2 linked regions of the Homo sapiens genome follow. The protein of the gene in region 1 purifies or fractionates together with the protein of each later gene. This does not show direct contact. Each region holds a gene or a part of one and is shown on either strand. Other genes may lie near its edges. The genes, in order: POLR2J3 and RPAP2.

The links.
Region 2: the proteins of POLR2J3 (region 1) and RPAP2 purify together in Homo sapiens (affinity purification with mass spectrometry, with the first as the bait; one large-scale study listed by BioGRID). This does not show direct contact.

The regions. Positions count from the first base shown.
Region 1 is NC_000007.14:102,569,599-102,574,195, reverse strand, and holds the start of POLR2J3 (DNA-directed RNA polymerase II subunit RPB11-b2), read left to right. Parts: upstream 1-1,612; 5' UTR 1,613-1,674; coding exon 1,675-1,724; intron 1,725-4,271; coding exon 4,272-4,361; intron 4,362-4,597. Other genes in the region: uncharacterized protein LOC124901712, read left to right, coding at 272-389. UniProt on the Homo sapiens protein: DNA-dependent RNA polymerase catalyzes the transcription of DNA into RNA using the four ribonucleoside triphosphates as substrates. Component of RNA polymerase II which synthesizes mRNA precursors and many functional non-coding RNAs.
Region 2 is NC_000001.11:92,322,881-92,326,696, reverse strand, and holds part of RPAP2 (putative RNA polymerase II subunit B1 CTD phosphatase RPAP2), read right to left. Parts: intron 3,253-3,816; coding exon 2,322-3,252; intron 1-2,321.

The sequences.
Region 1 (4,597 bases):
TTCCCTGCCTGGCAGCCGAGGCAGAGAGAGAGAGGAGAAAGAGAGAGAGACAGCTTACACCATTATTTCTGCTTATCAGAGACTTTTAGTACTTTCACTAATTTGCTACTGCTATCTAGAAGGCAGAGCCAGGTGTACAGGATGGAACATGAAGGTGGACTAGGAGCGTGACCACTGAAGCACAGCATCACAGGGAGACGGTTATGCCTCCGGGTAACTGTGGGCGGGCCTGTGGAGGAGTAGAGTCTTCTCTAAACTCCCCCGGGGAAAGGGAGACTCCCTTTCCCGGTCTGCTAAGTAGCGGGTGTTTTTCCTTGACACTAACGCTACAGCTAGACCACGGTGGGCTTGGCAACAGGTGTCTTCCCAGATGCTGGCGTTACCGCTAGACCAAGGAGCCCTCTGGTGGCCCTGTCCGGGCATAACAGAAAGCTTGCACTCTTGTCTTCTGGTCACTCCTCACTGTCCCCTCAGCTCCCATCTCTGTATGGCCTGGTTTTTCCTAGGTTATGATTGTAGAGCGAGGATTATTATAATATTGGAATAAAGAATAATTACTACAAACTAATGATTAATGATTCATATATAATCATATCTCAGATCTATATCTAGTATAACTATTCTTATTTTATATATTTTATTATACTGGAACAGCTCGTGCCCTCGGTCTCTTGCCTCGGCACCTGGGTGGCTTGCTGCCCACATCCACCAAGTGCACTTTGGGAGGCTGAGGCTGGAGGACTGCTGGAGGCCAGGAGTTCAATACCAGCCTGGGCAACATAGGGAGACCCCCCCCCCCACCATCTCCAAAAATAAAAAAAAAAATAGCTAAGTGTGATGGCACATGCCTGCAGTCCTAACTATCGGGAGGCTGAGGCAGGAGGATCTCTGGAGCCCAGGAGTTGGAGGCTGCATGATGGCGCCACTGTACTTCAGCCTGGGCGACAGAGGGAGACGCTGTCTCTAAATAATAATAATAATATATAAAAAGATATACGTAACCCTACGGGCTCCCCTCTCACTGCTGTATACACCTGCCTCCTTCTGCATCCCTCACCCAATTGTCCCTCCCGGCTAACAAGCCAGCTGCACCCCCCAGGCAGAGGTCCTGCAGCAGTCGGTATAGGCAGCCTGGGCAGGGGGCTTGTCATAGATCTGCCTCTGGCCACGAGATCTTCTGCTCCCCCTACGGCTGCTAGCCGCAGCTGTCCACTACCCCTTAGCTTTATTCTCTCTATTCAGGGGCCTCCTGCTGCGCACTCCAAGGGGGTGCACGTTTCCAAAGAGAGATCAAGGGACATGGGGAAAGGAGAAAGGTACAGCTTGAGGTTCCCGCTCAGCCAGGACTAGGAGGCCTCTGTAGGGGCAGAACAGCCCTGCCGGCGCTCTGAGCATGCGCCGAAAAGCGCCCACGGGGAAAGCCATGCCGGGGTGCGGGGTGGGGGGGTGGGGGGGGGGGGGGGCGGTGCGCTCGCCACTGACGCATGCGCAGAGACACTGGTCTCGCTCGGGGTTTTCTCGCGCCTGCGCAAGATCCTCCAGCCCAACAGGGGGCGATGAGCCGATCCTTGCGCGGGTTTGCCCCGCCGGAGTAATCCGGAAGAGGCCTCTTATTAGGGCTCTGGTGGCGGCGGTGGCGGACACTTGGGGTCTGGACGCAACGGCGGCGGGAGCATGAACGCCCCTCCAGCCTTCGAGTCGTTCTTGCTCTTCGAGGGCGAGAAGTAAGTGACGCCGGCTGCGGAGGGCCGAGGTGCGCGGGCCTGCGGCTGTCGCATTCTGGGGTGTCTCCTGCCCATCTCTTGCCCCGGGAGGGAAACAGCTTTTGCTTGATCGTCTGCTCGGCCTGTGTCAGCCAAATTTAAGGCCGTTCCGCGAGGCAGTCGCGAGTGTGTTCATTTTGCAGATGAGGACACTGAGGCTTGGAGGCGAGCAAGTTGCCCCGGACACAGGAAGTGGCGGCGCTTGTATTCGAACCCAGAGTGTCTGGTTCTCCATAGCCCTTTTCCTCTGGGATCTGGCAGCTTCCTCTTTTTGTCTCTCGCCCGCCACCTCCATCCTTCATCCCCTCCGATCTGTCAGCGGCCTGCGTAAAAGCCGCAGTGGCTCCTCGCTGCCTGCGGGTTGAAGGAGTCCAGGGGAGAGAGCTTGGGCTCACTCTGTATCTGTGGGCGAGTGGCTTGATCTGTCGGAGGCCCTGTTTCCTCATCTGGAAAATGAGTTTATTACTGTACTTAAACGTGGGATTCAGGCCGGGTGCGGTGGCTGACACCTGTAATCCCAGCACTTTGGGAGCCCGAGGCGGGCGGATCACCTGAGGTCGGGAGTTCAAGACCAGCCTGACCAACATGGAGAAACCCTGTCTCTACTAAAAATACAAAATTAGCCGGGCGTGGTGGCAGATGCCTGTAATCCCAGCTACTCAGAAGGCTGAGGCAGGAGAATCACTTGAACCTGGGAAGTGGAGGTTGAGGTGAGCGGAGATCACGCCATTGCACTCCAGCCTGAGCAACAAGAGCGAAACTCCGTTTCAAAAAACAAAAAAAGGGATCTGGCCAGGTGCGCTGGTTCACGCTTTTAATCCCGGCACTTTGGGAGGCTCAGGTGGGAGGATTGCTTGAGCTGAGCACAGGAGTTCCAGGCTGCAGTGAGCTTTGATCGCATCACTGCACTCCAGCCTGGGCGACTGAGCGCAATCCTGTCTCAAAATAAAAAGAATTGGATGAGGTAATTTGTGTAAAACTCTTGGTCCAAAGCTCAGCCCCTGGAAAACCTCATAACCATTGGCTCTTATTGTTCCCAGGTTGGCGTGCAGAGGTCTTGGTCTGGCCCTTGCCAGCCACTTCGGCCTCCTTTAGAGCAGACTCTCAACTGGGGACCATTTGGCCCCACAAGGGACATGTGGCAATAACTGAGAACATTATTGGTTGTCAAAGGGGGTTATGACTGGAATCTACTGGGTAGAGGTCAGGGATGCTGCTGATGTCCTACAATGTCCACAAGACAGCACCCCACAGGAAAGAATGATGCACCCTAAAATGTGTGTGGTGTCAGCCTGGAGAAACCACCTTAGAAAAAAGGATATTCAACTTGATACCTCTCACCTGTGTGAGATTTTACTGTCAGCATAGTTGCCCTCAAATTGAGTGTGCATTAGAATCACCTGAAGGGCTTCTTAAACCATAGATCCCTGCGCCCCACCTCCAGAGTTCTGGGTCCAGTAAGTGGGAGGTGGGAGACTCTTAACAAGTTCCCAGGGGATTCTGATGCTGCTTATCTGGGAACTGCACTCTGAAAACCCCTTGTCTTGGAAAATCCAATGGAAGTTTCCTGTCTTTGTCCATCTAAGCGTTCACTAAAATCATAGTAAATGCCAGAGCATGACTTGTTTTGGGGAATGGATGGAAGGACTGCACACTCCAGCCAGGGGGATGGTTGCTTTCGGAACTCACAGGGTCAGGACCAGCCTCACCGTGTAACTTCAGGGCCTCTCTTCTTCACCTTTTGGTTGCTTCATTATGTTGGCGTAAGAAAAAAGGAACAGGCCAGGCATGATGACGTGCGCCTGTGGTCCCAGCTACTCAGGAGGCTAAGGCGGGAGGATCACTTTAGCCGAGGAGTTGGAGGCTGCAGTGAGCTATGATCACACCACTGCACTCCAGCCTGGGCAGCAGGAGAGATCATTTGAGGCGAGGAGTTCAAGACCAGCGAGGACAACAAGGCAAAACCCCATCTCTACCGGAAAAAAAAAAGGAGGAATTCAGAAAAGGCCAAGGTTCCATAGACCTGGGGTAGCAGGAAGTAGGGGACCGGGTTGGCGAGGCCTTTATGGGATGAAGAGATTGAGAAAGGCCTTCAGGAAGAGGCAGAGCTTATTTTTCCTTTTTATTTTTATATTTTTGATACAGAGTTCCACTCTGTTGCCCAGGCTGGAGTGCAGTGGCATGATCTCGGCTCACTGCAACTCCACCTCCCAGGTTCAGGTGATTCTCCTGCCTCAGTCTCCCAAGTAGCTAGGACTACAGGCATGGATCACCACACTCAGCTAATTTTTTTTTTTTCTTTGTATTTTTAGTACAGACAGGGTTTTGCCATGTTGGGCAGGCTGGTCTTGAACTTCTGACCTCAGGTCATCCATCCACCTCAGCCTCCCAAAGTGTTGGGATTACAGACACGAGCCACCACACCTGGCCGGGAGGAGACAGGGTTTAGACTCAGGGTGGGAGGAGGGGAGCCCCTGCTCCTCATCTGTGGCCTCTGTGTCTTCCTAGGATCACCATTAACAAGGACACCAAGGTACCCAATGCCTGTTTATTCACCATCAACAAAGAAGACCACACACTGGGAAACATCATTAAATCGTAAGTTTCCCGTCACAGGCTCTCAGGGGCTATGTTTAATGGGCCCCTCTGGGCAAAGCACAAGTTCCAAGTCTTCCTCAGTCTCTCTGAGCTACAGGAAGTCCTTCTGGGGGCTTGCTCTGGGCATTTTATAATCTTGGTACCTTTTTATCAAAATGACACCGACCTCCATGTCTTCACATAAGCCACACTTCTGTAGTGGCTTATTCTGTAGATGAACACGTGCATTTACATTC
Region 2 (3,816 bases), on another chromosome or scaffold:
CCATAATCTTCCTGGAATAGCTCCACTGACCTGGGAACCACACTCCCATCCCCCACAACAGCCACAGCAAGCCCTGCCCAAGGAGTCTTGAGTTCAGACGCACATAGCCCTGCCCCCATGACGGTCCTTCCCTACCCACTCCGGTAGCTGAAGACAAAGGGCATATATTCTTGGGAGTTCTACGGCCCTACCCACAGCCTGATCCTCCCTATACTACCACAACTGATGCTCTCTTGAAAGTGCCACCTTCTGGCAGGAGGCTAACCAGCACAAAAATAGTACATTAAACAACCAAAAGCAAGGATCCTCACAGAATCCATTTCACCCCCCTGCCATCTCCACCAGAGCAGGTGCTGGTATCCATGGCTGAGAGATCTGCAGACCTGACCTAAGAGATTATCCAAGTGGTCAATAAGCAAATAAAATAGTGCTGAATTTATTCATCATCACAGTAATGTATTATAATCATAAACCAATACTACCAGAATGGCTAAAACTAACTATATCAAGTACCAGGGAGGACATGGAATCAAGGAAACTCCCATATAGTAGTAGTGGAACTGTAAACCGGTACAACCACTTTGGAAAACTGTTTGGCATTATCTAGTATAGTTGCATATATGCATATACGATAACCCACCATTCCCAGTCCTAGATACTTCAGAAATACATACGCATATTAGCAGAGAGATAAATACGAGAAAGTTCCTAAGAATATTGTTCATAATAGCCCCAAATTGGAAATAGTCTAAATGTCCATTAGCATAAATAAATGGTATATTTATATAATGGAATACTATACAGCAATAAAAGAATGAACTACAGCTATATGCAACAACACAAATGACTCAAAAGTATAATATTGCATGAAATAAACTGGACACCAAGAATATATACTGGAAAAAAAATGACAGAACTAATCTGTGCTAATATAATATTAATTTTGGAAAGAGGTGCTGATTAGGAGGGGATATATATGGGGCTTCTAGTTTACTTGTAATGACCTATTTCTTGGCTTGGGTAGTGATTACATCAGGACATTCATATGTGAATACTCAAGAAATCATATAATTACTATTTGTGTTGTACTTCAATGGAAATGTTTTAACATGTTATGTAACATTTTTGGAAAATGTTATAAATTTTTAAAAGTCAAATTTCAGGGATTATTTTTTCCTTTTTAAGGCTAAAAAGGACAAAATGATAAAATAAGTGATGTTCTATGGTAGGTTTATGCAGCTCAGTGACAGAGATCAATGTTTCTCCTAGCTTAATATAAGTTTTGGATGATGTCTAATAAGATACTTGAAATGATTTGAAGTAGGGTGCTGGGCCAAGCAACACTCTATAGAAATATATTTCTAAATTTTTTACTACATTTCTACTTCTACCCTCTTTCCAAATCTCCAATGTGCTTTTAAATTTAGAGCCACATTTACTTAGGAATATTTGAGAACAAAGTTTTGTGGTAAAAACAAGGTTATTACCCATTCCTCTTCATGTTAAATGACTTCATTTTCCAGGGAGTATACATCAATCAAAGATGGGTAGTAGAAATACTAAAAGATGCTCTCTAAATCTCAGTGGCACATTTTCAATCTCTACATATGGGTACTATTTACTGAGTACCAATTATATGTCATGTACTGTGATAAATGCTTTATACACATTATCTTTAAAACAAATAACAATTGAGCAAGAGAAGCTATTAATAGTTCCATTTACAGATGAGCAAACAGACCAAGAAACTAATTTTTCATACAGCTAGTAAATGACACAACAGATGTTCAAATCTAGGTCTATCTGAATGTGCTTTCCATTCTCTTTGTCCATTATTTCCCAATAAGTCTCTTTTACAAACTATTTTGATCTGTAATGTTTTCAATGGACATGCTTGCTAAATATTTTCCAATGTAACTACCAAGTCTATTCCATGGCATATACTTCCATTAAACACACACACACAGACCCCATGTAAAAATCTGAAAGAATACCGAAGAAGAAAAAGCAAGCCTCTTCAGAGGCTTCATTTATTGTATGAAGAATTAGGGAAAACTTTGTCCCACCATTTTAGGCTATTTTTACATTAGAAAAAAATATTGCACACTGATGAAAATTTGCTAGGGGTAAACGTCAACTTATTTGTAAAATAGTAATGCCAACAGTGGAGATGGCACTGTAAACCAAAAGGCAGAATGACTAAAGAAACTATTTGAAAATTTAACAATTAACTCTTCAATATCCTTCCTGCTCCAAGATTTGCTGTGGTGAGTTTTCCAAATGTTAACGATCTGGAAAAACTCAATGTCTGTAAGACATACCTCTTCTGAGTCTTGTGATTTGGTGGTTTCTTCACCCAAAACATACCGTCCTCTGTAAAACTCCCTGATCCTCAGATTTAACTTTTCAGTTTCTTTTTTCAAATTCTCGTAACTTGGCAGTGGTTTAATGGCTGTACCTGAGCCCCTAAAAGGTAAAGACTCATCCAAGCTGTTCTGAGATTCCCTCCAGGCAGGGAAATGACTATCTGGATCTGAGATTATGTCATCTTCATCAAGTTCTTCTTTAACCAGAGAGGCTTCGGGTTTCAGACACACAGAAGCATAATTCTGGCCATACAAAAACCTCAATGTTTCTTCTGTCTTCCACTCAATCAAAGTCTCCTTCAAAACTTTAAGTAAGTTTCTCTTTCCAACTTCAGGACACACCTGCACTGAACTAGACACTGACCTAGACACTTGGTTTGATTTGGCAAATTTTCTCTTAAAATGCTCTGCACTTTTCTTACTTATGCCTACTAGAGTTATTTCTGACCTACTGTATTCACTTTCAGAATTTTCTGACGCTTTTAATCTTTCAGGCAAAGTGCTATTTGAAGAACTCTGAGTATTTACTTTCTGTAAAGGAAGTTCACATGTAGCATCTTTCTCCTGACTATCTAATTTGCAATCGCCTAACTGCTCAGTGACATCTACTACTGTCTGTTCTTTGTCTTTGTGTTTGGAGTTAGCTTTGTGACCAGCTTTCTTTTTCATTATGCTTTTTTGGTGCAGCTGTGGTCTAATATTTGTTGAATTTGGTCTGTTTCCTGGTAGAATGGAGGAAACAAAGTCTTGCTCATTGTCACTGCTACTATCACTGTGAGTGCTAGAAGAACTAGATTCATATTGCTTTTCAAAGTGGCTAGGATTGTCGATATCTGATGTTTTAATGGCTTTACTGCATAACTGTACTTCTTCTCCAGAATGGCCACTGTAGAATGAAAGAGAAATAAAATAACTAAATAAAAAATAGCAAATAAAACCCGAAAACAATAGAAAAGTAAAGTACCCCATAGTATTTATACATTGTAACTTTCAAGGTAGAAATTTTTATTCCCCAGACAAAACCTTATTTCTAGGTTCTGATATATAAATTTCAGAAGAAGCCTATAATTTCAGTACATCTGTTAATAATATATTTTTTGATATAGTTCTCCTTCTGTATTCTTCCTTCATCTTTTTCCCCCAATTATTTTAAAATTGTTACAGGAGTACAGCAAAACTTTTTAAAAAACTTGATAATGCTATCCTACTGCACTATTTGGATTTGCCTGTTGTTGCAAATATATATATATATATAAATATATATATAAAGTATATATATAAATATAAAGATATATAAATATATAAAAATATAAAGTATATATTTATATGTACACATATTTACATATATAATATATACTTGTACATATATAATGTATATTATATATAATATATAAAGTATATATGTAGTTTAAAAAATATATAATATGAAAAATAATATAAAAATAAATAT